6 separate regions of the Homo sapiens genome follow, and regions 2, 3, 4, 5 and 6 are each reported to be linked to region 1. Evidence: microRNA targets listed by miRTarBase, many of them from high-throughput screens and not tested one by one. Region 1 holds a microRNA gene; each other region holds the end of a gene's coding sequence.
What was found. Region 1 holds the annotated microRNA hsa-miR-3668 (AAUGUAGAGAUUGAUCAAAAU, at 1,737-1,757, shown strand). A microRNA usually pairs through its seed, bases 2 to 8, with sites in the 3' UTR of a target mRNA and lowers its output. Matches are read on the target gene's strand: a 7mer-m8 pairs with bases 2 to 8, a 7mer-A1 pairs with bases 2 to 7 and ends in A, and an 8mer does both.

Region 1 (5,091 bases):
TAGTTTAGTTTTAAATAAAATGGATGTGATTAAATGTAAAAAAATTTGATTACTGACAGGAGACCAGAGTTAATTGAACTTAGCAGAGAGCAGAGTTTAGTTCTCCAGGCTACAATATTGACAGAAATTCTCAATGAATCATTAAAAAAACTCAAGTGGGGCTGGAGTATGTTTGAGCTGTTGCCAGGCTAACCTTGGAGACCCTTTGTTGTAAAGAATAGAATAGTCGTATCACATGGTAGTGCTGATAAGGTAAAGGAGAGGAGATATTCTTTATTACTGCTGTCAACCTCGTAGAGACAATTGGGAAACATGTTTTTGGTTACTGTGGGTATCTCTTGGGATAGTAGTGACAACTCTCACCATCCAGTTTATTAAATCCCAATAGGAATGTTTCCATCATCTCTTTGCAAAAAAATTGTTAGATGTAACATTTTCCAGAAGTACTGGAAAATTTATTTATGAGCCAAAAATAAGAGTGAAATTGACTAGAAGCAGAAAGTCCCTGTCCAAGCTAAGGAAATGCAAAAAGTAAACAAATGGTATAAATAGCAAAAGAATGTAAGTCTGTGGTTAGCAGTGACATCTGAATGTCCAGTTTAAAGTTTTGTGCTTTATTCCCAACCCTAGTTACAAAGTGAATGAAACTGACACAATATAAATATCTGAATCTTCTGATTCTTCTTTAATTAAATGAACATTCCCTTAATATGTGATTCTGAAATGTTTTGAGATTTCAATGTCAGAAATGATTGTCTGTGTCAAAAGCAACTCATTCTAATTGCTCCTTTTAAGTTCATGTTGCACATAATTGTATGTTCTCTTAACCTAGGCACCCCAAAGAGGCTTTTATTGTGAGTCATAGATTCTCCAATCCTGAATTATGTTGGTTGGTGCTATTAATTACCATTTGAAAAATCATTGATGGGGATGCTTAAGGAAACTTGTTTGATTTAGTTTTGTTTTTGGTCTTAAATCTTTAGGATATTCATTTTCAAATGCAAATGTTCATAACCTAACAGACATGAAATATTTTCAGGTTTCTTTCTACAACTTCTTTGAGTAGAGATTCTCCCAGGTACTGGTTACCTTGAATATTACTGAATAAAGATTTTTTTTAAAAAAGAAATGTTACTATCAATACCATGTAATTTACCTGTTAATCATGTAATATTTTGAAAGTACAGCAACTAACTATGATACTATAATACAGGCATTTTTGTTCTAACACTTTGGAAAAGAGATTAGCATTACGGATGATTTAGATTCATGTTTTGATAGTAAAGGTATCTGTTGAAATATATAGCAGTTCATTTATTTTACATCCTGTATTTAAAATTCTATGATTATATTGGCTCTAATTTTAAAATGTGTTACAAAACTTATAGTACATATCTTTAATTGCAAGCCCTTATTATTTTACAATACCTAATGAAAATGATCAGTTATGCTCATTTCTACACAAGGTGATATAATAAGACACAAAAATGAGTGAAACAGGTGTTAAATCTCTTTCCCTCACACTGGGGTCATCATCTGCTTTTTTGAAGTATATTTTGTACAAAGAAAAAGATATTGGAAGAGAGTCATTGGTAGTCTAAAATTTCTTGCCTGGCTGTATTTTGGAAAAATATTACACTAGTCCTTTCTCCTTTCCTTTCTGTATCTCTTCTATTTATAACTATTTTACAACTATTTAAAAATGTCTTAGAGTTTAACTGGCCTAAAATATATGAAATGTAGAGATTGATCAAAATAGTTTCTATCAAAATAGTTTTGATCAATCTCTGCAATTTTATATATGAGGAAACTGAAGTCTGAAAGTATTATGCCCTTTGTGTCTCTATTTTGAAAGGCAGTGACAAAATTAAGACATATGACCAGCATCTGCTGAACCATGGATCTTTTTTATAACTAACTATATTATTTCTTTTTTTTCCCCAGAAAAGATGATGGCAGGAAAAGCTTAGAATAATATATATGTTTTTTTCTATTCTATCTAATCAATCAATCAGTTTTGTTTCACTGTAACCCTAACCTTTGTCAATGTCATCAATAGCATCGCTTGTTCAGAAAACAAATGAACATTTTTGGAGTCAAAAAGTTAAACTCAAACTCCATCTTACTGATATGGAAGTGCTGGGAAGGGAGGAGCGTGGCTCCTTTAAATGATATGGAAGGGGTGAAGGAAAGTGCTAGGTAGAGGAAGGGCGTGGTCCCTGGCTGGGGCTCCACCCCCACGGACCTAGGTAAGGACAGGCACTCCTGCCTTCATGCCCAAATGTTGTATTTCCAAAGACCACCCTGGCCCACCATGCCCTCATCCTGTGTGTATAAAAACCAAGACCCTAGCAAGGCAGAGAAGAAGCAGCTGGACATTGAGAGGAGCACATCAGCAGAGGAACACACAGGCACAGGATGTTCAGAGGGATGCACCAGCACCCGCATGCTGGCAGGCTACTGACCAGCAGAACAACGTGGAGTTTGGCTGGGGTGGTTGGAGGAGAGCCCGGGAGAGCCCGCGCCTCTGAGTGGCACAACTCCAGGGGAAAACCATCTCCTTTCTGGCTCCCCCATGTGCAGAGAGCTACTTCCACTCAGTAAAACCTTGCACTCATTCTTCAAGCCCACATGTGAACCAATTCTTCCAGTACACCAAGGCAAGAAACCCTGGGATACAGAAAGCCCTCTGTCCTTGTGACAAGGTAGAGGGTCTAATTGAGCTGACATAAGTCGCCTATAGACCACAAACTAAAAGAGCACTCTGTAACACACCCCACTGGGGCTTCAGGAGCTGTAAACTTTCACCCCTAGACTCAGCCCTGGGGGCGGAGCCCCACAGCCTGCCCATCTGTATGCTCCCCTAGAGGTTTGAGGAGCGGGGCACTGAAGTAGCAAGCCACACCCGCATCGCATGCCTGGCGAGGGGACAAGGGAACTTTTCCTGTTTCGTTACTAGATGTATGACCTTTGAAATTTACTTACATGTTCACATTTTAAAATGGGAACTATAATGAATACCCACAGGTGAAATGAGTGATTTTAACCAGTCTCATTTTGCTTAGTCACATGATCCAGATATATCTGTTAGTCATTTAGTGATTTGTTGATTGATTATTCCTGTTTCTAAAAAAAAATCCCATTTGTATTTGATGAAAACTGAAAAGGCATCTTCATCTTCAGTTTTAGAAACTGCAATGGACTGAATGTTTTTCTCCAAAATTTATATGTTGAAATTCGAATCCCCAAGGTGATAATGATATTAGGATGGAGAGTCTTTGGGAGCCCTCATAAATGAGATTAGTGCCCTTATAAAAGAGACCACAGAGAGATCCCCGACCCCTTACCCCATATGAGGATACATGAAAAGATGGCCATGTTTGAATCAGGAAGCAGCCCCTCACCAGATACAAAATGTGCTGGTGTCTTGATCTTGGACTTCTCAGCCTCCAGAACTGTGAGAAATAAATGTTTGTTGTTTATAAGCCATCCAGTTTATGGTATTTTGTTACAGCAGCCTGAATAGTTTAAGACAGCAATTGAATAATATTTAAAAATGCATGAAGTACTGCTGCTTAAATATTAAAGTCAATGAGAACTCCCTGAAATTTATAGATGGAAGAGGATGCTGAATTTGTTTGTTACCAATCTCACATTTTACAGTACCAAAGGCAAAAAACTTAACCTAAGATGGCAGTGGTTACACAGAAAGTTAATGTTATGTCTGGGGCTAAAACACAGATCTCCTCATTTTCAGTTCTCAGCATTTTCCTCAATAGCATGCCACCTTTCTTAATAAAAGGGTAATTGTGTTGGGACCAGGAACACTGGTATATTTTAACAGATATGTCTAGACCATGAGAATTGCCAGATGCATTTTGCAAAGATTTTATTAATTGTACACACACATTAGGATATTAATTTCTTCAGATGAATATTTAATTATTAATGTTACACAAGTTGGAATCAGTTGTTAAGTATGTGCTTTAAGCTATACCAAAACTAAGTGTTACACTGGAAATTGTCACAGGCCATTTTCTTGTGTTAAAGTAAAGCTACAATTTTTTTTCCTATAACTCATGAAACAATAACTTATGTTTCCCTTATTCTTTATTTATTGTTTTTATTTTTAATGTTTATAATTATTATATACGTTGGTTCATAGGAAATGCAAAGGCATATTTTCAGCCCACTTAGGTATTATTTTATGGCATTCATTGATGTATTAACTTTCCTCTGACTTTATGTCATTCATTCTCTCTCTATTTTTATCACTTTTTAGCCTATCAGAATGCATGCAATTGTATAAAGAGCCTTAAATCATTCTGAGAGTAGATGTTTGAATAAATAGTATTTGTTATTCAAAATGACCGTCACTGGAGAAGTGATTTGATATACAATTTTTTGCTTTACATACAGCTACCTAGTAGCTAAAATGCAGCTTCTTTAAAGGACAACTGAAAAATCTTTAGAAAACATAGGTAAGGGAATGTGTCCCTGAATGTGTGAAAATGACAATGACACTAATAGTATTAAACTAAAAGAAGAGAAATATTAAGGAAGTTAAAGGAATGAAAAAGGAAGGAAGGAGAAGAACTTAGTGTGTGCTAGGCACTGTGCAAACAACAAACAACAAGAAAACATCTAACTCAATTTCACTCAGGAGGAAAATGAATCCTAGGAGTTAAGTAACTTGCCTGATGTTAGACAATGTGTAAGTAACAAAAATGAAACCTTTTTAACTCTACTACAATTTTTTAAAATTAAAAACGTGAATTAAAATTATGTTTTCTACTTTTACTTTCGTTTGATTCATTAATCTCGCAAGTAACTTTGGATCCCACTGGAGTTTCTCATATAATCCATGCTACTACATCCTAAGAGAATTTAACTCTGTCCTGAAATGACATCTGAAGCCAATATTTATAACCCAGTCCTGTGTCCTTGCCAAGTTTCCTGTGCTAATGATCTTAAGCTTCAATAACAGCTGTCATGTAGATGAATTGCAAGGTACTTTGGGAGCTATATGAACGTATCGCATGGCTTTTATCACACATACATTTCCTGCATCACCTCTGGATTAAAATGTCA
Region 2 (5,091 bases), not on the chromosome of region 1:
TATGCCTATTAATTTGGCAAAGATTATTTAAAAAGACAATACACAGCATTGGCAAAGATTTGGGAATAAATGGGCATGCGCAAAACGTATGCTGCTAATGTTAGTATAAATAGCTACTAGGAGCTTCGTTATAAACGTGGAAACATAAACTGAAGTCCTTAAAAACAGAGGAAGTATTTTCAGTTCTAGGAATTAAGCAAATTATTTAGGGATGGATGCAAAAATGTCTACATAAACCCAAATATCCATTTTAAATTAATGATTAAATAAATTACATCTGTATGAATCAATACTATGTATTAAAAATTACATTGCAGGATTCTTATTTGACATAGGTCAGTATATTAAGGGCAGTGCACCAAGTTTTTTTTCTTCTTTTTCAAAGCCTACAGCAGGTAGAAATTATGTACCATAAAACACTGAGTTAATATGAAAAGCTATCAGTTTCCTAGGGCTGCCATGACAAATTACCACAAACTAGGTGACTTAAAACAATGGAAATTTATTCTCTTACAGTTCAGGTTAGAAACCCCAAATCAAGGTGTTGGCAAGGTTGGTTCTTTCCGGAAGCTATGAAGGAGAATGCTTGTTACTTCTCTCCTAGCTTCTGGTGGTTGCTGGCAATCCTTGGTGTTCCCTAGTTGTAGGAACATCCCTCCGGTCTCCTTTATCACAAAACAGCCTTCCCAGTGTTTCTGAGTATCTTCTGCTCTTCTTCTAAGGACACTAGTCATTGGATTTAGGGCCCACCCTAATCCGGCATGACTACAACTAATTACATTTGCCAAGACCCGATTTCCAAAATAAGGCCACATTCTGAGGTTTTAGGTTGACATCAGTTTCTGAATGACACTACTCAACCCACTACATGTAAATAACATAGATATACAAAAGATTGAATATATTACTGACAGTGTTTATCTCTGGGTAGTTTTAGTTTATGAATGATTTAAATATTTTTTTGCTTTTCTGAATTTTAAAATAAATAGCTTATATAGAGATTAAGTTCTAAGTTTATTGTATAAAGTGAATATTAGGTGTAGTCAAAAATCATTTCTGGCTGGGTGTGGTGGCTCACACCTGTAATCCCAGCACTTTGGGAGGCCGAGATGGGTAGACTGCTTGAGCCCAGGAGTTTGAGATCAGCCTGGGCAACACGGCAAAACCCCATCTCTACAAAAAATACAAAAATTAGCTCGTTGTGGTGATGCATGCTGTAGTCTCAGCTACTCAGGAGGCTGAGGAGGGAGGATTGCTTGAGCCCAACAGGTCAAGGATGCAGTGGGCTGTGATCGCACCACTGCACTCCACCCTAGGGGAGGCAGAGCAAGACCTTGTCTTTATAAAAAAAAAAAAAATCACTCTTTTCTCTCACAGAGCTCACAAATTACAGAATACATCATTTTATACCTCATATCTCTTCTCAAAAATGTCCAACATAGGCAATTCTTCCTCCAACACTGGAACAGACTACTGTTCCTCTGGGTGAGTACTAGATGAAGCAGTTGGTTTGTGTTTATATGTTATGTTGTACAAAAATGAAAAAAAGGTTTTCTAAACATGAAAGTGTAGTTGAATGTGTTCAAGTTAAATGAGTATGAGACTCCACTGTTTTAGTTGTGTAATTAGAGGAAAAACTATTTTCTTCAATGTTTACGAAGAACACTACCCATGGCAATGAGTTAGGAAACACTCTTAAGACTAAGGGAAAAAAATAATTATTGATTTCCAAAATGGACTTCTTAAAGAGGTGAGGAATATCTCTGAGTATTTCTGAGTTTTTTAAAAGTCCAAAAACTTAAGAAAATAATACTTAATGTTCAGCATGAAGTTGAGATTGGGCTGCAAAATTGGGGTTTAACAATTTGAATGCCCAAGAAGCAGCTTTTGCTTTTTTTGCAGTCACCAATATCCACAATGAACAATATTAATAAAATTAAATCAAAATGAAAAATTGACAGCATTTAAGATACTGTGGATAAAATTATAGCCAATTTTTGTTTTAAAAATTCTTCCACGGTATATTTTCCTTTTAAAGATTTACAACTATGGTGTCTCTCATAACTGGAATAAGATAAATTCTATATAAAATTCAATTTTAAAAAGTATTCTCATGTACAGAGGCTGACATCATGGGTAGTCAAAGAATATGTTTAATAAAAAATAATTAAACTTCCATTTGCTCTATAGAACATCATAGAAAGTAATTTAATAAATTACAAATGACTTTTTAAGACGTTTGCTCAACTACAGAAAGCAAATTCAGACTACACAAAACACAACTGGTAAATATTGCAAATGTCCAAAAGAAAGATTGGACTAAGACTTGAATCATAAAACCTGAAACAAGGGCTATAAATACAAGGCAATAACAGCTATAATTCTTTTAGTAACTACCAACACATACTTGGATATTCTTTCAACTGCAACTTTAGTATTATGTAATTCTACTGATTTTTTTTTCCTTATAACCCTTAACTTTACACAACCATATTTGCATGTGTTTTCTTAGCTGATAGCTGGACAACTTTTCCCCAATGAATATTAAATAGAAGTGTCTTGAAACCTAAGAGAATGTTTAAAGTTATGTTAGACTTAATGCTTTGAAAACTGTAATTGCCTTATTATATAGAAAGAGAATCACTAGGATGTTAACCAAATTTATTTGACCATAATTAGGAAAATACTTTCTCTCATAAATTTGATATAAATTAGATTTTAGTGACAAGATCTACAGATTTTTTTTCCTTTTTTTTTTTTTTAATTGGCGAAAGGAAGGAATAAAGATCATGTGGGTAGAATTAGAGGGAGGAAGGGAAATGTGGTTGGTGTTGAAATACTCCACCGGTAAACTAAGATAACTGTGTTTGAAACTTTGGCTATCTCATAGGTGTATTCTAGTTAAACAAAAGTGCAATACTGCAAAGGGAAGATACTAAATATGTAATATATCATTTTCATGATGAAGAATTACTACCCACTTCTCCTGGATGGGCATTATAGAGACTATTGCTAAGACATTGCATAAAGGACTATCAATTCAAAGTACTATTTTGGGAAAATACAAAATCAATACAATCCCAATGGAACTTATATAATTTTGTAAATACATATAACACTGTCTCTCTAATAAGGGGTTATTTTACATACAGAAACATAATTTACTGGTAAAGGTCTTGGAAAACCTGATACAATTGACTAACTCATGACAAAGCAACAGTTTTATCAAAACATACTGAAAGTATTTTTTCTGTAGGAGAGAACTGGGACACTTTTTCCCCCTAAATTTATGCCCTTGCAGACTTTACTACTAACTTATTTGAGTACCAGAAAAATGCTAACATATATCTCTCCTTAGAATGTCAATATTTTTATGTCCAATTCAGTACTAATTGTTTTAAATATATATAAAGGTGAACCTGGACCTCTACCTTGTCAGAATAATAGCAGCTTTAGCAGGAGAAATTGTATCACAAATCAAATATCAGACAAATTTTACATGGTAAAGGAGTCTATGAAATTGAACAGAAGCCTCAGGCTTCACTTTTGTGGTTTACAGGTATAACTTGTACATCTTTTTGAGATTATTCAAAGTGCATTTTCAAAACGGGCAACTCAGTATATTTAATATAAACTGATAACCCAACACTGATTCTGGGCAACATTTAGTCTGCTTACACCTAGAAACTCAAAATGAATTTAGACTATCTGCATATTACTTTACCACTATTATCTGTTAATTCTGGAATATTTCCATGACATAAAACACAAATAGAAATCTACACAAAGAAAGCAAACAAACAATTTCTTTTACATGAAGTATGCTGTGTTGAAAGTTCTTTTCAGTGGCATTTCATGAGTTTGCCTTTTCTGAACCCTGGAAACAGACATTACTCATCTGAGACATGATTATTTCTAATAGGAGGCCAAACTTTGAAAAGTTAAAACTAAGTATGTCTATAGGGTGCCAAAGTCACATGACACATGATTATTTTATGACTTAATTTTACTGATATCTGAATTAAGCTCAGCAAAAAGCAAGTCATATTTCTTGCCAGATTGACATGATATATAGGATGTGTTTAAAAAACCCCTGAAAACAAGTATAGAATTAGAAACGAATGTAAACTTCCTAAACTAACTCAGCTGAGGTAACAGGTAGCCAGTTAAATTGGCTGATTGGGAAACTTATTTCTTCTTTAAAACATACTTGTACCTGAATTGGAAACATCAGCAGTGCATCACAACACTAGAGCATTTTCATGTAATTAAAGCAATGGATGGTGATGTAGATTCTACAGCTTTCATGACATTCATTAGCTGCCCAAATTATTGCTGAGTTTTGATCTGTAAATTATAGGTGTCAAGGAGGCTGTAAAACTATATTCAAATTAAATCAGTAATATGCATAAAGTATTCTGTGTTCACTGCAAATATATTAAATATACAACTCTTATTGAGCATAATTTTCATAAAATTAACCCCCAACAAAATTATAATGCCTTTTGTTGTAATTTTACACCTTTATGTATTTGATAGTACATACGAGTTCAGAAACTTATGAATCTTAAGAAATATTACATGCAAAAAGTCTCTGAAAGCAGTTTGCACTTCTAAACAAATAACTGAAATGTTCGGTCAGTAAGTTATTGATGCACTCAACACTGGGGTATTTACAATTAATTATTAAAGAAAAAATCCAAAATCAGTTCATATTTTAAGTGCAGAGTCTGGGAATCAGTCTTCATTACTAGAATCTGAATCCTCAGATGACGACGATGTACTATCAGATCCAGATGAAGCATCAGCTTTCTCTGAACCCTCATCTGTGCTGTTTTCATTGAGAGGACTTGGTTCAGTTCCTCCTTTGTCTTCCTGATCTTTAATTCTGGAATCTTCTTCTTTTACTTCTACAGACTTAGACGAGCCTAAGTCACTGTTTTTGTTTTGTACATCAAAAGTATTGGACTGGGACAAAGTTGGAATATGAAGATTAAGGCCTGGAGTGAGAAGCATCCCTGGATAAAGTATATTAGATAGTAATAGTGGGTTAAGAGCTAATGGGTTGGCAGCTGCAGCTGTATTTAATGC
Region 3 (5,091 bases), not on the chromosome of region 1:
GTGTGCATGTGCACATGCATAAAAATAAGAGTGTGAGAGACAGACTTGATGCAGATTCTCATGGGTTATTCTTTTGCAGTTAGCTTTAAGGGCAGCTCCATCCTATGAAGATTTTGTGGCCGCGTTAACCGTAAAGGAAGGTGACCACCAGAAAGAAGCTTTCAGTATTGGGATGCAGAGGGACCTCAGCCTTTACCTCCCTGCCATGGAGAAGCAGCTGGCCATACTGGACACTTTATATGAGGTCCACGGGCTGGAATCTGATGAGGTGGTATGATGGCTGCTGGGCAGCACCTCCTAACTTCAGGGAATAAGTGCTAAAGTGTTTTGTTGCCCTACTTAATTTCCAGCAACAGCCTCAACCCTCTCCAACCCCTTCACCTGGGGGGATGGACAGGAGGTGGCAAAACCCAGTGCTTTTATAATTTTTAAAATGCATATGTGTTTTGTTTAAAGATCAAGGTGCTATATATTTCAGTTCAGCAGGCCTACTGGAAACCAAATGATAAGCTGCTGTAGACTTGAACAGCAAGTTATAAGAGCAGATTTAACAAACAAATTTGCTGTTATTGTGTATTGTATTGTTTTTATATTTTAGTCTAATGGGCCACCCAAACCCAAGCTGAAAATCAGCAAATTCCATATTAAGTACCATAATTCATAGCCAGTGTTTCAGCCAACTTAGACTAGACATTTGGAGGTAGTATAAGCTGCTTTGTTGAAGCTGTGTAGAGTTTGCTGTTCCTAGATGTTCTTCAGTGGACCCTCTTCACTGCAACTCTGTCAGTGATAAGGGCCTGTGTAGTAAAGATGTTCAGGGCATTCACATGACCATGCAATTGTGGGAGGCGAAGAAGACGTGGACAGGAGTCCCATCCTTGCTGACAGGCATGAAACCGTTGCTCTGAGAAGATTAATGGTGTGCCCTAGCCCCAAGTTGGAGGGGAGAATATGAGAGAGGTGGGACAGGTCATTTGAGATGACACCTCCCAACTGCCTACCATTTACCAGCATGTTCCCCATGCATTATCTCAATTGGACATCACAAGTAATGATACCCAGAGGGATTATTACTCCACTTCAAAAGCAAGGTTTAGAAGTTGAGGGATCTGTTCACAGTCACATAGTTTTTAAGCAGAGGAGCCAGATAATTTCCAAGTGTGACCTGGACTGCCTCTGCATCAAAGTCATATGGAGTGCTTGTTCAAACAGCAGATTCCCAGGCCTTATTTTGGCCTAAAGAACCAGAGTCTAGGTGGTGGGACATAGGAATCTGCATTTCAGTAAACTTTACACGTGATTCTTCTGCACACAGTATTGAAGAGCAACTAGATTAAATTCTAGTTTACAAAATTACCAGTTTTCTTCAAGAACTAAATGATATGTCCTTTTTTTTTTTTTCAAAGAGGATAAGGCTGCTATTTAAATAAAATAGCTAAATGGAGAGTGAGAAGTGGAGCAGGTTCATTCAGCAGCATTCTTAATTGAGCCAGCATTGACACCCAGCCAGCAGGCCTTTGCATTGCATTCGGGGACCATGACTCTGAATCTGCTTACCAATCAATCTCGGTTTAATCACCAAAAGTGCAGAGCAGGCAAAATGCAGCTGTTTATCAATCTCAAAAGCTTTGGGACAGTGTCATAGTTGAAAGATGAGACTTAAGAAAACAGTTTCTTAAACTTCTTAAAACTTAAGAAACATTGTTTCATAAAACAATATTGAGTGGGCATTCTTCTGCACAGTGTGATGCTCCAACCCTGGCCCTAGTCTCAGTAGACCATGCTGCCTCGAGTGTGCATCGGAGAGAAGCCATGGGTACCTTCCCCATTAGAGGCTACTTCCTTCTAGTAACAGGAAGGGAAGTTCCAGCATGAGGTAGTTATCCAGGGTAGAAGGTCCTTTGAGGGGCTTGGTTGAATTGAGAGCATCATCTCTAGATGATGCTGTTCCTGCTGCAGATCTCTAGGATGGAGAGAATTCTCTCTTTAGTCAGAGAAGTTTATGTAGGGAGGGGTATTGGTTTTGCCTTTGTGTGTCTTTAAACAAATGAACATTTATTTAGCTCAGATTAATTAGGTATTTTGCCCACATAAAGACTTCTGGAAAATACTTAAACTTGAAAAATCAACATCACATGTTTTAAAGCTAGGGAGAAAGAAGGGGGGTATTAAAATGATGTTGATTATTTTGTATTTTGCCAAGGTGTGTGTGTGTTATTTCCCTCCCACTCTCATGAGCAGTGAGTATAGATCTCCTTCTCTGATTAGTATGAATATGATGGCAGGACTCGGGGATAGTCCCTGCCCTTGACATAGCCCCCTAAAACGGAAAAAGAAAAAGCCAGTTTTTGCTTGTACTTTGAATGAAGATGTTTTAGGCATTGTACCATTTAGCGGGGATGATACCAGGTGGTTGTTAGAATTGTGCAGTGTGATCATTCTAAACAGCTGCTGGTGCTCCCTGTCACCTCAGGTGAACTCTGTGGTCTCTTGGAGAGGTAGCACTCTGAAAATACCTCAGGTTTGCCACCGCAACTCTGAATACACACAAAAGGAAAGCTGCTCAGCATGGCCATTTTGCATTTGTATAGGTAGTGACTAGATGTACACAACTTAATTTGCTGGGAATGAGGGGCTTAATATTATCTGAGATCATTGAGAACCCAGATCAGACAGAATAGCTTGAATAAGTTACATTTTCCAATTACCCTTTTTCCACATCTGTAGAAAGAGGGTAATATTTTTTAATAGGTATTTTCCCCACTGGAGCATATTACGTTTGCCTAAGATGTATAAAAGTTTGTTTAAGATGTGTAAAAGTTTGCTTAAGGAACTGAGGATCCTTAAATAAAAATATTAGAAATTAGAAATTGAACCTAATACTAAACAGTAAATTCAGCTTAACCTGAACCTTGGCATAGTCAGAGCTTCCTCCTACATCTAAAGTATTTGCTCTCTGTTTTAGTTAAAGTCATAATTTGCGCTGATGTGTAATCACTTTCCAAGAAGAGGGCAATGAGAAAAGATATTTAAAGCTTTCTCTCCATAGCCCTCCAAGACTTCTGGGACAACTAAATTTACTTTCACCATTACTGTGAGAGGAGGTGAGAAAACTCTAGTATTTTGTTGGCAGAGTAATCACTTTGTTCTCATCGCTCAAAGCATTTTTAGGATTATTTTTCTAGCGTAACCTTTAGAGAGAACTGGAAGAAAAAGGAAATTGGTCTACTAGGTATTGTAGACACAAATAAGTAACATTAGGCTAACCCCTTATGAGACATTTCCACACAATTTCATCGTGCCTGTACTTTTCTCTATGGTAAAAGCCAGTGTTTACACTTTGTAGGGATCAGGGTGTATTTGTTGAATTAAACAAAATATTTTCAATGATGGCAAGTCTCTTGACTTTTGAAAGCAAGTCAGATTCCTTATAGCTAATGCTGGTGAAAAATGTTAAATTGGAGAGATCCCTTTTGGGAGTGAAACCAAATTGTAACTATGAGGAGAAGATGGTCTTCTCATTGGCTCTTGATGTAGCTCTGAAGGGAGTTCCAGAAGAGGAGCTCTCACAGAATGTTGAGCCTGTGGGCCCAAGACATTGACTTCGAAGGGTAGTTCTCATTAGGATGTATAAGTAGTGGCTTGAGGCACCTTCTTATCATTTTTTGCATGTTATTCTGATTATTAAACTTCCCCCAATGTCATATTCCATGATGAGGGATTTCTGAACTCCATAGTCCAGCGTTGTTGCTTTTCTCTCTTCTTTGCTACTGAAAATTGCCAGCAGTACCGCCATCAGCACACCAAATCTACCCCCACTTATGTTTGTTCTGCCCCATTTCCCAGGAGCAGCTTCTAGCACATATGTAGAGTATCTGGCACCACCTTAGCCCAGGGCTGCGTGCCTGATCAGTGGGGATTCTGTTCCCCCACCCCCCAGACTGCAAGAGCTTCTTAAGAAGGAGCCCATATTCCCATTTGTAGCTGGAAAGCGGGTGAATGACATGACATGGGGCACCTAGGAAAGATGATTATTAGAGGAGTGCAGCGGAAAAAAATTTGCACTCTTCTCCTTTTGGTTATTACTTTCCAAATATATTAACAAAAAGTTGATGCTTTTAACTTTATATTTTCAGAAAAGTGTTTTTAATTAAAAATATGTGATAGGGACCAAATAAGTAAAGTACATTTTTCTCCACTAAATTTGAAGTGAGGGAAAGAGGAGCCAAAGTAAGAGATTTTTTTTTAAGGAAACTTAATCTGATTGTGAAAATCATACATATGGAGAAACATCAGATCAGGCAATAGAGTCAGAGGGTCATGAGCAATAGACGATGATGCGAGGCATTTGGGGAGCTTCCTGGAGGAAAATTAAGTTTTTTTCCTAGCAAACTACCATGTCCTACAAGAACTTGGTTATATAATGGTGCGTCTCTGAATCACTGATTAAAACCAGTTGCTTCTGATTTTAGTCACAGGTTTTACAAGTATTCAGCTCTCCCTCATGTTTCATTTCTTTTTTTAAGATAATCTATCAACCTTTTTTAAATTTTAAAATTTTTAGATGTAGAGTTTATAAGTAAAATATATTTTTAGCCATTGTTCTGTTAGCTGAGCTGATGTGTTTGGTCTTAGAGGGCCTGACTTCAGATACTCTTTGTGATCTTGTAAGGGCTCTACACAAACTTCATTATGTATGGTAAATTTGTATTCTTATGGATTGTATATAGAATGCTTTCGTTAGAAGTACATTCTACTTCTGTATGTCCCTTTGTAATCCGCAGTTGCTTACTCAGGGGTTTCATAGTCATTTCATAAAAAATAATTCACTAGCTGTCTAATGGTATTTTAAGACTGTTTATCTGTATCACAACGTCATTAGGAGTTCTTTCAACAATTCCATAAATATACTGTTTACTAGACCTTCCCTGTAAATGTTCCCAATTCCCATCCTGTCTCAGACAGTCAATAGTCCTGTGTACAGTGACTATTTGCATGATTTCTCATTGCACTGCTGCATTCAGGCACTCCAGGGCATGATTAAACAGTCATTAACAGTGCCTCTCTGGTACAGTTGATGCATGCATTGAT
Region 4 (5,000 bases), not on the chromosome of region 1:
CCCAGGCCCCTGCACAAGCAGGCAGAGCACTGCACATAGGCCTGCCACTCCCTGCTGGCCTCCGAGCTTGCTGCTGAGGACGCCTGGGCTGAGGGTGCACAGGAGTGGGTGTGAGGCCTGAGATGTCCCACTGAACCCTCACCAGCTTTCAGGCAGGCCCCAGGAGGGGGCCAGTGGACAGAGGAGCCCTCACTATCACACAGGCTCTTTCATTAAAGACAACAGTGACAGTCATTGTAACAATGGCCATCTTCTACTGCGTGTCTACTGCGTCTTCTACTGCGTATGCAGGCCAACAGCAGCTCACAGAATCCCAGGTGCGAGGGGCGCTTGTAACAGGAGTGCCTTTAATAACTTCCATGTTCCCTCCATGTCCCTGATGCCTGGGACACAAGCCCTTCCCTGAGTTCCTGCACTGAGCTCCTGTCCCCTGGGCTGTGAGCCCAGTTAGGGGGATATACCTGCCCACTGGCTCTGGGCACACAGGGCTCTTAGCTGGCCCTCACTGAGCTAACTCTGAAGCCCCAGGGAAGCCAGGCAGGGGTGGAGAGAGTCTGAGTTGTGGCCCCTCGCTTGTGCCCAGTGGCCGGGCCTTGAAGGCACCAGGCTGGGTTCAACCCCCAGCCCCATCCCTGTTTCCTGGTATGTGCTTGACCTTGGCCATTGTGCTCCATTTCTGACCTGTCTCCTCACTCCAAACAGGAGGATGAAGATGCTGCAGGTGCAACTTTTTCTCTCTTCCTACATCCCTCCTGGCCCATCACACCGGAAGCTCTTCCCCACGGCTGCTTCCTGTGAGGCTTGCCTGAGGGTGAGGCTGGAGCGGGGAAAACAAAGCAGCGGGGTGGTGGCGGGAGCTTGAGCCTGGGGGGCCCTGTGCCCTTTGGGCCCCTCTGCGTGGGGGTGCAGGGCAAGCCTCCATTCTCCATGCAACTGGCCAGGTAAGGAGGCTTTGCAGAGCAGCCTGTGGGTGCTGAGGTCTACACATGGGGTGGACATCCAGGAGGCTGACCCTGGCCACCGTCACCCTGTTGGTGTGGCCGGCTGATTCCTGCTCCCTGTGATTCCTGTGAGCACTTGTCAACTTAGGGCGACCTTCTTGTCCCATTTTCCCCAGATATCCCCGGTTTTAGCCCTGAAAGTCCCAGGTTCAGGAGAATCTCTCAGTCCCAGGCAAACTGGGAAGGTTGGTCGCCCTATTCTCAATTAAGTCAAGGGTCAAGGCGGTGGGTGGCAGGCTGAGGGACAGAATTGGCCTTTGAAAGCCCCATAAATACCGACCCTGGGGCGTTGGGATAAAACATACAGAGATATCCCATGGAAGGTCCCCAGCCCAGCCCTGGGGTATAGCAGGACCCTAGTGAAGGATCCCCCCATCCCTCAGGCCGGCCTTCTCCTTTCCCCCACCCCACAAATGACAACTGACAGACATCTCTATATTTTTATTGAAAATAAAAAAGTCATGGTGCTTTCTTCCTCATAAGTGGCATATGGACACCCCCAGTGCTGCCGGTCTCGCTTCCGGTACAAAAGTCTCAGCAGGAAACCAACCTTAATGGCTTGTTGGTGGATAAGACGGCATCAACTTGTACATTTGCCCATTGAGAGAACTCCCAGGAGCAACTGTCCTCTCTCCAGTACACGCGGCACGTTGCTAAGAAGGCAGATTTCAGGATATTCACATTCATGCATTACGTATCTCACACTACCTGGGCAGTTTAACTCATACTTTGTACAGATGCAGAGAGTACAGTAGTTGTATTTATATATATATATATATGTAGAGATCTCTTTAAATATATATAGCTATATATAATATATATGTTTATATGTTTACACCTATTAGTCTTTCTTCCAAAACTTCCTTTAGAAGCTTCTTAGGAACACCTGAAACCTCTGGGAGATCCTATGATCTGAGTTCCAAAGTTGGGGTCAACTGTGAGACGGCTGGAAAAGATCTATTTGAGAAAATGAGAAGGGAAGTGCATTTCATTCTTGACCTCAGGGCTCGGACTAGCCTGAGGATCGGTGTGTGTCTAGAGACTGCCGGCTCATTTTAAATAAAAGTTCTAAGCTCAAATACTAGGCCGGCAGGGTTTTAAGTACCCTTATGTCTCTGTAAGCTCAAAATCTAGTGGGTCTCCCTTGCTGTGCCGTATACTTGTTTTTTGAATGGGCGGTCTTGGGCTTGAGGTGGGGGGTGGATATTAAGTGAATCTTTTAAAAAAACTAGGCTCTTCCCTTGATTTTTGCTAACTGGGGTGAGAAGGGATTTTACAAGCCCAGCTGAGAGGGAATTTATGTGCAGACTAGAGCCCTGGATGCGTCAGCGGCTCAGGGAAGAGGATACAGGCCCCAAAACGTGGTGATGGCTCAGCTGATTCCTCACCAGGGAGCCTCGCCTGGGGCTGGAAGATTAGGCTAACTGCAAAATCCAGGCCTCCTAGGTTTAAGCCAAGGTAGGGAATGATGGGACCAGGCGAGTGTGCGCAAAGCTGGGCTGTGCCCAGCCCCTTCAGGCTGCCCACCACTCCATGGTCCCTTAGCCAGGAACCTCCCCTCTTAGAGAAGGTGCCCTCTGATCACTCCTGAGCTTCTGGACAGCCCAAGGCATGGGCACTTTCTCATGGTTGCAGCACAGGGTGGTGTGTGCTTAGGGCTAGGGTCCTGCCCAGGGGTCTGCTTAGGGCACAGCTTGGGGGTTCAACAGGCACCAGAAGGCTGAAGGCAGTAGGGGAGAGTGCCCTGGGGTGGGGTCTGCTGGGTTTCCCCCTTTAACCTGCTGCTGGCCCACACCCTCTGGCCTATTTGTCAGCTGGCTCCGCACCTCAAGAGCACTGTGAAGTACTGGCCAGGTCAGGAGCAGGGGGTGGCACTATGCTGATGCCCAGGTGTCCAGGGGAAGCAAAATTCAAATCTAAACCCCAAACAAGTCCTCAAATAGAAGGAAATGAGGAAAGAAGAAAACCCCTTTATGGGAGGGTATGCCCTGGGCCTGTCCTCAGCCCACACCTGATGACCTGGGCAGGACAATGACACACAGACAGCTCCGTGGGCACTAGGACTCTGGGACAATGGGCTTTTTAAGGTTCGGCCCAAATGGGGACCGGTTTTCAGGTGTGTCTGTCTTCTCTGGACTTCAAAGTCTCACCTGTAGCTTAAACACCTATCAGAGGAGCACACTGGAGGTTTAGGAGGCAAACCAGGTCTTAGAGGGCTCGACAGTGGAACCATTCAATGCATTGGGCTCCTTCTGAGCACATATGTAGGGGTGGTGGGGAGAGCCAGGGGGCCAGGAGTGTCCCACTCATTTTCCAGGAGATGCAAAATCACCCTGTCTCCGTGGGTTTCCTGATGTGGCCCACAGGGAAGGCTGCCACTTGGGAGACAGGCCAACAGGGCAGGGGTCACCAGCCTGGAGGACCCCTCTCCTCCTGTCCCATTTCATCCCTTGATCCTCCAACCACGCTGGAGGGCTCAGCGCTTCTATAGCATGAGACTGTGGAAACAGACATTGAAAGGAAGACCCTGGAAGAACAACACCTCCTTCTTGGCGACTGGGGCTCGGGGTAGGGTAAAATGGGGAGATGATGGAGGACTCTGGGAGAGGGCCTGAGTACAACAGTCAGGCCTCAGGGGACTGTGGGGGACATCCAGCGCCTGGCCAGCATCAGCCTGGTACAGCAGGCCCACAGTGGATTTGGCACAAGTAGTGGCCTCTGCTGACTAAGGCAGGGCCTGGCTCACACAGATGCATCAGTTCCTATGGGGTCAAGTGTGGGGATGAGTCTGAGGACAGGTGCAGTGGCCTCTGCCCTTGCCCAGTGGCCCTGGGCTGCGGGTTCAGTGAGTCGTTTTGCCCCCGGAAGGCCAGACACTGCCCCCGAGTGTAAACGCACTCCTGTGTCTGCTCAGGAGGGGATTCTGCAGGCTGGACTCACAGCCCTCCATGGCAGGCAGTCAGGAGCCTAGGGTGTAGGGTGTCAGTGGGGATAGGAGGGAGAAGGCAGGCCCTGAAGATTGACAACAACTGCAGATGGGGCGATGAACAGATGTGTGGGAAGCACCTTTGAAAGGGGACGTCTGTCTGCTGGCTGTGCCGATGGCTTCTGTTGAGAATGTGAACAGTGGAGCAGGCAGGCTTCCTGGGAGGAGGAGAGGTTTTCCGGCAGGGAGTGGGCTCCGGACCATCTTTCTTTTGGCTAAAGGGGGAAGCCTCCCTGCCACAGTAGAAAGACAGATCCCTCTGGCTTCGCCAGTGCGCATGCTTTAGACAGCAGCTGGGGGCAGTCGACAGACCAGACACCAGACAGGGAGGAGGATGTGGAGGGCCTGGGGTGGGGACACTGCCCAGGTGCTGCGCCGGGCTCAGCCTGGTGTCCGAGCTGCCTGGGCCCGCAGGCTGACCAGGGGCAAGCCTGGGAAGACAATGGTTTCTCCTTCGGGAGGCTCAGGGCCTGTGAGGCAATGAAGTCCTGGACAAGCTCAGGGTTAGCTCATGTCCACCTGCTTTCCCATGTCCACCAGTGCCACCAAGGTGTCCCTCTGGCCAGCGGGTCCAGGGCCTGCAGACTCACACCACTGCGTTGTTCACGTCTACTCCTTTGTTGCTCTGCGAAGCACTCATGGGATACTCAGCAACGCTGGTGCCATTTTCGTCTTTTCTCAGTGGTTTCCTGGAAGTGGGGGGAGGGGACAGGAAAGGCAAAGGAGGGGGAGGCAGGGACACCATTAGTTATCACTGATGGTGGGGTGTAACCTCCAGCTAGCATCCCTGCTCCGTGAGAGTGTCAGAAGGAAGCCAATGGCTCTGTCCTCGGTTAGCATCCTTGGGCTGCTAGTCCTTGTGGGGTTAATCAGAAGCTGGACGTGGTCTTAACTCGGGTGTCATGAAAACCGGGGCACAGTTGAGAGGGAAAGAGGGGAGCTATTAATGATGAAGCAGGGACAACAGGTATGAGTCCAGGCTGTTTTGGACAAACAAGAAAGTATGTTCAGTC
Region 5 (5,091 bases), not on the chromosome of region 1:
GTCTTTGGCGGCCTGCACAGCCTGCAGTACCTCTACCTGCAGGACAACCACATCGAGTACCTCCAGGACGACATCTTCGTGGACCTGGTCAACCTCAGCCACCTGTTTCTCCACGGCAACAAGCTGTGGAGTCTGGGCCCGGGCACCTTCCGGGGCCTGGTGAACCTGGACCGTCTTTTGCTGCACGAGAACCAGCTGCAGTGGGTCCACCACAAGGCGTTCCACGACCTCCGCAGGCTGACCACCCTCTTCCTCTTCAACAACAGCCTCTCGGAGCTGCAGGGTGAGTGCCTGGCCCCGCTGGGGGCCCTGGAGTTCCTCCGCCTCAACGGCAACCCCTGGGACTGTGGTTGTCGCGCGCGCTCCCTGTGGGAATGGCTGCAGAGGTTCCGGGGCTCCAGCTCCGCTGTCCCCTGTGTGTCCCCTGGGCTGCGGCACGGCCAGGACCTGAAGCTGCTGAGGGCCGAGGACTTCCGGAACTGCACGGGACCAGCGTCCCCGCACCAGATCAAGTCACACACGCTCACCACCACCGACAGGGCCGCCCGCAAGGAACACCACTCACCCCACGGCCCCACCAGGAGCAAGGGCCACCCGCACGGCCCCCGGCCCGGCCACAGGAAGCCGGGGAAGAACTGCACCAACCCCAGGAACCGCAATCAGATCTCTAAGGCGGGCGCCGGGAAACAGGCCCCCGAGCTGCCAGACTATGCCCCAGACTACCAGCACAAGTTCAGTTTTGACATCATGCCTACGGCCCGGCCCAAGAGGAAGGGCAAGTGTGCCCGCAGGACCCCCATCCGTGCCCCCAGCGGGGTGCAGCAGGCCTCCTCGGCCAGTTCCCTGGGGGCCTCCCTCCTGGCCTGGACACTGGGGCTGGCGGTCACTCTCCGCTGAGGACCCAGGGCGTCAGCACCCAGCACTGCCACATGTCCACCAAGGAACAGAATTTATTTTCTTCTTTTTTTAACAAGTGGAAGATCTGCTGGGTTTCAGGAAAAGGCTGGTAGAGCCTTCGGCTGCTGTCTGGACGTCTGGACCCTGCCATGTGGATTATAAACCCAAAGTGTACAGCCCTAGGCGGGAGGGGGTGGCGCTTCTCAGCCGGCTGTCCCAGCCAGCCCCGCAGAGCGCCCACGGACAGTGTCCACTCTGGCAAGGTGGGAAAAGGCACTCCAAGTGCATCCTCCACTGGCAACAGTGGGACAATTGCCCCCGACGGCGGCACCGGGGCTCTGTGGAATCCCGATCGTTCCGAGAGGTCTGGAGGGCCCCGTGGTTCCTGGAGAAAGCAGGACGCAGAGAAGAACAAATGAGGCTCACCCACGAGGCTGGGTGGCCAGCAGTCTGGGCACACACGAGCAGGTGGCATCTTGGCTCTTGCCTGAGGCCAGTCACCCTGCCCTGAATTCTATCCTACTCCACCTTCAGCCCCTCCCTCGGGGGTAGCGCCTCTCATTCCTGATGTCTCAGGCAACCCTGGCAGACCCAGGTCCAACTGCTGGGGTCCAAGAACCAATTACCAAAGGAAAGATCATCAGAGGCTGAAATCTAGAACTTCATCCCGGGCAATGAGGTTCTCACAGAAGGTGCAGTTTTATAACTAACTACGTCCACTTATATATATTCACACTCTACATATATATATATATATATATATATATATATATATATATATATACACAAATGCACAGTCCCCCTCCCACTCCGTTACCTAACTGTACGTCTTTTCATGTTTATAAACTATACAGAAAACTGTATTTGCTGAACTAAGGATTGTATTGGTGATTTCTAGCAAAAACAAAGTGATAGAATTTTTGTCTAGAATCCCAAACTGGCAACGATAGTCTCCAAGGGACCTGGCCTTGCCAAGGGCCTGGGGCAAGGTGTCGGCGGGACGGTGAGGAAGGGGGAGGCAGCAAGAGTCACTTTGGGGGACCAATATTCTTAGATATTTAGAGCATCACCTTGTTTTTATATGCAACACAAGCCTGTCTGCCACCCTGGAGCGCCCTGTCACCCCTGCTGTCGTAGCTGTTGGCTTCAGGGTGAGAAGTGAGAAGCAGCTTATTGTATATGAGGGAGCCAGGCCCCGAGGGTGAGCGAGATGGAGAAGGGGAAGGAAGGGGCTTTGGGATCTGGAAACCAGCAGGCCAGGCAGCATCCACAGTGTTAGTCCAAAGGGTCGGACCGTGTCGTCAGCCTAGCGTTTGGTCAGTGACGGCCTGGACGGGCCAAGGAGACTCCGGGCTTGAGCCCAGGCCTCCCGCACGGCTCAGCTGCTGAATTTTTCCTTGAGGCTGTTTGGTGTGTGACCCAGCAAGGGCCCTGTGTGGGACAGCAGGAGGGAGGCGTCGGGGGCCTTAGCAGAAGGGGAACAATGAGGGCATTTCATGAACCATCTCAGGCACTTCTGCATCACGGAAGACCTGGCCCTCCCAGCCGTCCTGGGGATGCTCAGGGTGCAGGCAGAGGCTCGGGAGGCCGGACTCAGGGGTCAGAAGCAGGGACTGGGGCAGGCGAGCCCGGACAGGGAAGAGGGGCTCCGATCAAAGCCGGCCGTGCTGCTGGCCGGGGGCCCAGGTGGGTACAAGCTCCTTTGTGCTTTGCACAAACCTGAATCCCCCACCAGAGAGGATGTGTGTGAGGAGCCAGAAACGCTGAATCCAATTAAGAGAGAAAAATAATAATAACAATAAATGATCTTGGACAAGAACCCTGTTTTTCATTTCCTAACCCCGCATTCCCGACAGGTGGCAGATCCTGGGCTTCTGTGGGTGGGCGAGCCTGGCCGGGCACAGCTCTGGGAACACAGCACATTTGTTGGCGGGAGGAGCCGCAGGGGGCAGGGGCGCACTGATTCACGGGACACATGAGAGCACGCACACCCTGGTGCTCCGTTTCGTGGCACTTCCCTTGCCCGCACAGATCATGATTCACTTTCCACATTCTGACTGCCCCGGGTCGGCACCATCTCCGTGGCTCTCCCCGGAGGAGGCTGGTCCTGGGTCCTTCCTGGCCTATTCCCGGGAGTCTCCGGAGCAATGGCTAAGTGACTGATCCTCAGGGCGCCCGGCAGGCGGCTGGTGGGGACGGGCGGCTGCAAGGAAACAGTCAGTACCTGGGGCCCAAGGAGTTTTCCAGGAGGCTAGGGACCCACCCGGACAGCTGTGGGTGGGCTTGGAGACTGCACACGTCTCTCTGGCTTCAGAGAAAGGAGAGGGTTCCCCGGATAGAGGGAGGAAGGCTGTGTTTTCAGGCCTGGCTGGACAAATCCTCCTCAGTATGAGGCTTGGGGCATTCACTAAAGGGAGCCCAGTGACTGCAGACCAAAGAATCCTCAGCCTGCACCTGCTCCCCTGTGGCCTGCAGGCTCTGACCCAGGCCGAGGTGCTAGGGCCTGGCTGTCCCTTAGAACCCAAGGATGTTGTTGTGTTGTTGATTTCATTTCCAGCTTCAGACAGCAAGGCCCTCAGTGGGAAAATCAAGAGTCTAAGCACTTTATTAATTTTTTTTTTAAAAAAAGACTTAGGAAGTCCTGTAATATGGAAGTGAAATGTCAGTACGAGAAATGCTAATGTTTTATAAATGATCCGCTTCTGTCAAGCACAGCACAGTCTCTGGTTGCCGACTGTTATTAGAGGCAAGGCAGTGGGGGCCCAGGACGCCAGGTATTTTTAGCAGCTTTCTCCTCTAAGAGGTAGGGGGAATCAAGGCAGCTCTGTTGCAGACGACATCAGTTGTCACTCAGCAGCTCATGCTACGCAGTTATGATGACACCATCGCCCCAAACATCAAAGCAACTGGACGCGTCAGGGGCGAGGCAAAAGCTTCTCTATTCGCCAGCTCCAGCCCCTTGCGTCTGGTTCAGGGCATGGAGATGCAGATTCCTGTGGTCTTCCCAGAGGCGGGGGCCACCCCTCCGCTGCCATCTTCCCACTTTCCCTGGACCCCCAGAGGGAGTCATCTCTTCTCCCTCCCAGCCCTCCTGCCACACAGGCCTCCACTGTGGACTGATGGGGACAGAGCCACCCCTGTTGGAGGGGCTGGGTGGCCACTGGTGGTCTCCACTGTGGACTGACGGGGACAGAGCCACCCCTGTTGGAGGGGCTGGGTGGCCACTGAAGGCCTCCACTGTGGACTGATGGGGACAGAGCCACCCCTGTCGGAGGGGCTGGATGGCCACTGGTGGTCTCTAAGGCCTTTCACACAAGCTCCTCCCCTGACCCCAGAGCTTGGCTGGCTCTGCATAGTTCATTCAACAAGGGCTGATCAGGGACCTCCGTGTCCAGCCACTGGCCAGGCTCTGGGGACATAAACGTGAGAAGACGTGGCTCGGGGCAAAAGGAGCTCAGAGCCTAGATGTAGAAACAAGTATTCGCAACTGGTATGGAGTTGGCGCTTGTGGTAGCACCCCTCGGCCCCCAAAATGAGGAGCTCAGCTGGGTGGGGGCAGTCAGAGAGGGCTTCCAGGCAGAGGTGACACTCCAATGAGTCTTGGAGGATGAGGAGCCACCCAGAGAAGAGTGTGGGGAGTAGGGCTAGAGGTGGTAACAGCACTGTGTCTGGGGTATCCACAAACCACTCCCAGCTGAGGGCATGGGAGACGCGCCCTGTATGGGAGCGGCCCAGGGGACTCTGCTCAGGGACTCCACTCTGCCGTGGAAGTGGAGGGGCTGTGCGGTCCCCCCGACCTGGTCGTCCTCCCGCCCACCCCCCCCAGCCTGTCCATAGGCACGTGGTTTCTGACCGTGGCAACCTTGCCGCGGTTCTTCAACAGTGGGTTTCATGGTGGAAACTTGCCTCCTGGGCTCAGCCAGATCCTCCCCTGGTGCCAGCAAGCTGGAGCGCTCGCTGGAAGTCTGCCTGGGCCACAGGCCCATTCCCAGACACCTGCTGCTTCCAAGCTTGGGAAGCATTCCACGGCCTGCGCTCCCTGCTTCCCAGCCGCGGCCGCCCTCAGCCCCTCCTGACTTCGGAGCAGCTCAGATCACCCCGGCGCTTCTGCCTGTGCGGGCTGTGACCATCAGCCAGCCCCAGAGCCCCTCCCACCAACCGCACCCCTCCTCTCCTGCCGGGGCTGTTCTTTGC
Region 6 (5,091 bases), not on the chromosome of region 1:
ATGAATGTAAGGTATGTGGGAAGGCCTTTAGACATAGTTCAGCCCTTACAGAACATCAGAGAATTCATACTGGAGAAAAACCCTATGAATGCAAGGCATGTGGGAAGGCCTTTAGACATAGTTCATCCTTTACCAAACATCAGCGCATTCATACTGATGATAAACCCTATGAATGTAAGGAGTGTGGGAATTCCTTTAGTGTTGTTGGGCATCTTACTTGCCAACCGAAAATTTACACTGGTGAGAAATCATTTGACTGAAATAAATGTATAAAGTGGTTTTTTATTTCTGATTTTCACAGGAAAATACTGTGGATGGATTTAATAGGTAATCAAGGCAATTCAGTATCTCCCTCTCTTAAAGTCTGTTTTTAGACTTCATGGTCATTCTGTATGTAGACGTAGAATTGCTTAGTCATAGCTGATATATACTTATAGCTTTGTTAGATGTTGCCAAATATTTCTCCTTTTTATGTTAAAAAGTTTTTTTCATGAGTTTCTCATCCTGGCATGTTTTGTTTACAATAGCTTTTGATGTTTGTATTATTGCTCTTTTGACTATTCAGTTTTTTAATTGTAATATTACTTCAATATCTTTTCTGCATTGTAATTCTTTGCTTGTGATATCTATACTTACTTATTTTCCTCCACAGAGTTAGCACTCCTAGTCAGATACAATGTATTTTTACAGTCTTACAGCTCATCATTTTGTGTAATGTTGTTTTGTTTTGTTTTAAATGATAGAAGTGTGATCTCCTTTCCATTTTCATCCAATTGTTGACTTCTCTTTAAATTTCTACTTTATTTTGATACAACATATTCCCCCCAAAAAAACACATACATAGGAACTGGTTATATTCCACCATAACACACACACACACACACACACACTATATACATATAGTGTATATACACATATAGTGTATATAGTGTATGTGTGATGTATACTATACATATCACATATACTATATGTGTGTATATAGTGTGTGATGTATATGTGTGTGATGTATACTATATATGCCCACACATGCACTACATAACACACTATATATATATATATATATACACACACACACACACAATATATGTATATATAGTATATACACTATATACTGGGCACTATATATATATAGTGTGTATGTGTGTTATATTGGAATATAACCAGTTCCTTTAAGCAGTCTTTTTACCTGCAGGCTATACCAACCAGGATCCAAATGAAGAGAACTCTTTTAAATATTTGATAAAACTACTCACCCAGTAAGTCTCTTAAAATTTATCATTCTCTTAAAGTATCACTCTAAAATTTGTCAAACACCTTTAAAAGGGGAGAAAAAATGACCACTGAACTTACATTAAGAGAATTTACAACTATATATTAACATGGCTTCAATTGTTTTTTTAATCTATTATCATTATTTTTCTTTTTATTCCCTCTCAGAGTTGACTTACTAGGTTTGGGCATTTCAACAATCAGCAGACCTTCTTTGGTTTAACTAATCTCATTTAACTCCAAAATCATCTCTCTCTTAGGACTGCTGACTTGGTTATGCAGTCAATGAGATCACGAGCCACTGGTTATTGGATTTTTTTTCTTTTTTTTTAGACAGAGTTTTGCTCTTGTTGCCTAGGCTGGAGTGCAGTGGCGCAGTCTTGGCTCACCTCAACCTCTGCCTCCCAGGTTCAGGCTATTCTCCTGCTCAGCCTCCTGATTAGCTGGGATTACAGGCATGCGCCACCATGACCGGCTAATTTTATATTTTTAGTAGAGACGGGATATCTCCGTGTTGGTCAGTCTGGTCTCAAACTCCCGACCTCAGGTGATCCACCCGCCTCAGCCTCCCAAAGTGCTGGGATTACAGGCATGAGCCACCGCACCCAGCCTGGTTATTGGATTTATTTATTTATTTTGAGATAGAGCCTTGCTCTGTCACCAGGCCGGAGTGCAGTGGTGTCATCTCAGATCACTGCAACCTCCACCTCCCAGGTTCAAGCGATTCCCCTGCCTCAGCCTGCCAAGTAGCTGGGATTACAGGCATGCGCCACCATGCCCAGCTAATTGTATTTTAGTAGATATGGAGTTTCACCACGTTGGCCAAGACAGTCTCGATTTCCTGACCTTGTGATCCCCCTGCCTCGGCCTCCCAAAGTGCTGGGATTACAGGCATGAGCCACCACGCCTGTCCGGTTATTTGATTTTTATAAGAAAATTTTACTATTATTTTCAGATAAATTTATGTCACTGTCATTCATTACATTTTAATTTTTGAAACTGATGTCTTTCCCAGAATTTATGTACTCTATAACGGTGTGAATGATTACCAGTATTAAGCCATTTTCTCATCTGATATATTGAGCTATGTTTTATGTAAGTATTGCTTATTCAAGTAGTTTTAAAAGATATGTAATTGGTTGTTGTTTCATGTCCTACACAGTAAGAACAAGAGTATGTTAACCTTTTTGTCAGGATATTTGCTATTTCATATCTTTGAAATAGAGTAGTAGCTCTATTTCTAACTAAATTCTATTTATGTAACAACACAGCTAATTTACTCTTGGATCTCATTCTCCCTTTTTATCCTGAGTTACCATCAGTGCTAATGTTCCTCTTTTGGGTATAGTTCTCCAGGAGAACTTGTCCTATATTTCTTTGTGTGTGTTTTTTTCCTTCCAGCTTAAACAAATTAAAACTAAATATCTAAACCTTGTATACAGACATTAAAATTAGTGAGAGAAACAAAATATCCTTGTGTCTTGGCTTTTACTTTTTGAAGTCATTAACAAATAATAAATTAATGAATAAAATGTGTCCTTATTATGTTTTCCTTGTTTGTAGTTACAGCTATATTTTTATCATATTAACATTTTTCACTTAACTTCGTAATGAACTTATGGCATTTCACACTTACTCGAAACCATAATATAATTATTATTGGTGGTATTACTGTTTGGTTTTTACTATTTTTACTCAAAAACATAAAACTTCACCATTCTTTCCATTTTCATTTGCCCCTTTATTCTTTCTGACTTTTCTCTAAGCCTGCATAGGAGCTTTATTCTCATATTCAATAGGATAGGATATTGCAGTCTCATCCTGTTTTCTGCTGTCCTGCACCATTAAATTTTATATGTCCTTGAAGGAATTCAATTTAATGGCAACTAATATATGTATGTTAGGGACAGGTAAAGAGTCTGTGACTGAGATTTCTGGAGTTATATAACCCCTGCGCCACCCCCCACCCCAACTCCAACTTGCCAGAATTCACCCCTTAACCTGCAATGTGATTGTATTTGGACATAGGGCAATGAGGACATAAGAATGTGATTCTAATTTGATACAAATGGTGATCTTATGAGAAGAGGAAGGAGAGACGTCTCTTCCTATGCTCACACACAAAGGAAAGTCCACATGAGGACACAAGGAGAAGCCAAGAGAGCCCTTACCAGGAATTAAACCTGCTAATCCCTATTTTAATTAGAACAGTGAGAAAATAAATATCTGTATTTAAGCCTCACAGTCTATGGCATTTTCTTACAACACCCTAAGCAAACTAAGACAGTTGTTGGTACTGAGAAGTGGGGTGCTGCTATAACAAAAAACTAAAAATGTGCAAGTCCAAGCTTTGGAACTGGGTGGTGGGCAAATAGGCTAGAAGAATGCTGAGGGTAGATGCTAGAAATATGGATGTAAAAATGATTCTGGGGAGGACAAAAAAAAAAAATAGAACCACTGGAGAGAAAGCTTCCATTTTAAAGAATCCTGTCATGAACGGTATTCATGTTAAAGAAACAATCATGAACAAAATGTTGGTAGAAATATGGACATTTAAGGCCATAATGTTTTAGTCTCAGAAATGAGAAACAGGTTATTGTAGCAAGGAACTTGGCTGAATCATGTTCTAGTGTTTTGTGGAAGGTAGCGCTTCCAACCAATGAAAACTGAATAGTAGCGGAGATTTCTAATTATTGAACTTGTGGCTTGGGTTCCCTTTATTGCGCATATAAAACAGGAAAGGAGAGAGATGAATTGAAGGAGGAATTCTTAAGCAATAAGAAACTAAAATGTGAAGATTTGGGAAATTCTTAACCATACTGAGAAAAATGAGGAAATGTGTATTTTGCTGTTTTGGGGTAGAGTGTTGTGTACATGTTAGGTGTTGTTAGTTGATAATCTTCCAGTTTTCTATTTCCTTCTTGATCTTCTGTGTAGATGTTCCATCCATTATTGAATGTGAAGTTTTGAAGACTCCAACTGTTGTAGAACTTTTTTTTTTTGCCTGCAACTTTTTGTAGTGTTTGCTTCACTTCTTTTGGGGCTGTTTGGTGTGTTTGTGTTTATAACTATTATATCTTTTGATGCATTGACCGTTTTATCAATATATAATGTGTCTTTTTTGTCCCTTGTAAAAATTTTTGACTTAAAGTCTATTTTGTTTGATACTAGCATAGCCACCCTACCTCTCTTTTGCTTAACTATTTGCATGGAATCTTTGTCCACTCCTCTCACTTTCAAACTATTTACAGTTTGGGATTTATACTGAGTCTCTTATGGACAGCATATAGTTGGATCATTTTTTTTAATCCATCTGGCAATCTCTGCCTTTTAATTGGAGAGTTTAATCAATATACATTTAAATTAATTGCTTGTAAAGGACTGACTTCTGCCATATTTTAATTTGTTTTGTGTATGTCTCTTTTTGTTTCTTAATTCTCCCAATATTGCCACCTTTTGTGTTTAATGGAATTTTTTCTTTTTTCTTTTTTTTTTTTGAGATGGTGTTCGCTCTTGTTGCCCAGGCTGGAGTGCAATGGCACAACCTCAGCTCGCAGCAACCTCCACCTCCCAGGTTCAAGCAATTCTCCTGCCTCAGCCTCCTGAGTAGCTGGGATTACAGGCATGTGCCACCACGGCCGGCTAATGTTGTATTTTTAGTAGAGACAGGGTTTTTCTGTGTTGGTCAGGCTGGTCTCAAACTCCTGACCTCAAGTGATCCGCCCGCCTCAGCCTCCCAAGGGGCTTACAGGCGGAAGCCACCATGCCTGGCCCGAATTTATTTTACTGTATCATTTTGGTTCCTTTATTTTATTTTCTGTA

Region 2: miRTarBase lists CHD9 as a target of hsa-miR-3668. Seed matches in the 3' UTR shown: 7mer-m8 at 4,287-4,293.
Region 3: the mRNA of PLEKHA8 is a reported target of hsa-miR-3668. The part of its 3' UTR that is shown has no 7-base or 8-base seed match.
Region 4: miRTarBase lists PRIMA1 as a target of hsa-miR-3668. Seed matches in the 3' UTR shown: 7mer-A1 at 3,263-3,269 and 8mer at 1,778-1,785.
Region 5: miRTarBase lists RTN4RL1 as a target of hsa-miR-3668. Seed matches in the 3' UTR shown: 8mer at 1,634-1,641.
Region 6: the mRNA of ZNF529 is a reported target of hsa-miR-3668. Seed matches in the 3' UTR shown: 7mer-A1 at 1,032-1,038.

Annotation. Positions count from the first base shown.
Region 1 is chr6:140,203,524-140,208,614 of GRCh38, forward strand. It overlaps MIR3668 (microRNA 3668), which reads left to right and starts at 1,729; the gene lies at 1,729-1,803.
Region 2 is chr16:53,324,542-53,329,632 of GRCh38, reverse strand. It overlaps CHD9 (chromodomain helicase DNA binding protein 9), which reads right to left. Exons shown (of 39, transcript NM_001308319.2): 39 at 2,136-5,091. The coding sequence ends at 4,738. Among named protein-coding and RNA genes, the nearest start is that of RBL2, 110 kb to the left of the region's middle.
Region 3 is chr7:30,078,511-30,083,601 of GRCh38, forward strand. PLEKHA8 (pleckstrin homology domain containing A8) reads left to right here. Exons shown (of 14, transcript NM_001197026.2): 14 at 80-5,091. The coding sequence ends at 277. Among named protein-coding and RNA genes, the nearest start is that of PLEKHA8, 53 kb to the left of the region's middle. RefSeq lists an enhancer at 2,310-2,836.
Region 4 is chr14:93,716,871-93,721,870 of GRCh38, forward strand. It overlaps PRIMA1 (proline rich membrane anchor 1), which reads right to left. Exons shown (of 5, transcript NM_178013.4): 5 at 1,428-4,676. The coding sequence ends at 4,574. Among named protein-coding and RNA genes, the nearest start is that of PRIMA1, 69 kb to the right of the region's middle.
Region 5 is chr17:1,932,302-1,937,392 of GRCh38, reverse strand. It overlaps RTN4RL1 (reticulon 4 receptor like 1), which reads left to right. Exons shown (of 2, transcript NM_178568.4): 2 at 1-2,716. The coding sequence ends at 897. Among named protein-coding and RNA genes, the nearest start is that of RTN4RL1-AS1, 83 kb to the left of the region's middle. RefSeq lists an enhancer at 4,611-5,091.
Region 6 is chr19:36,542,035-36,547,125 of GRCh38, reverse strand. ZNF529 (zinc finger protein 529) reads left to right here. Exons shown (of 5, transcript NM_020951.5): 5 at 1-3,513. The coding sequence ends at 260. Among named protein-coding and RNA genes, the nearest start is that of ZNF260, 16 kb to the right of the region's middle.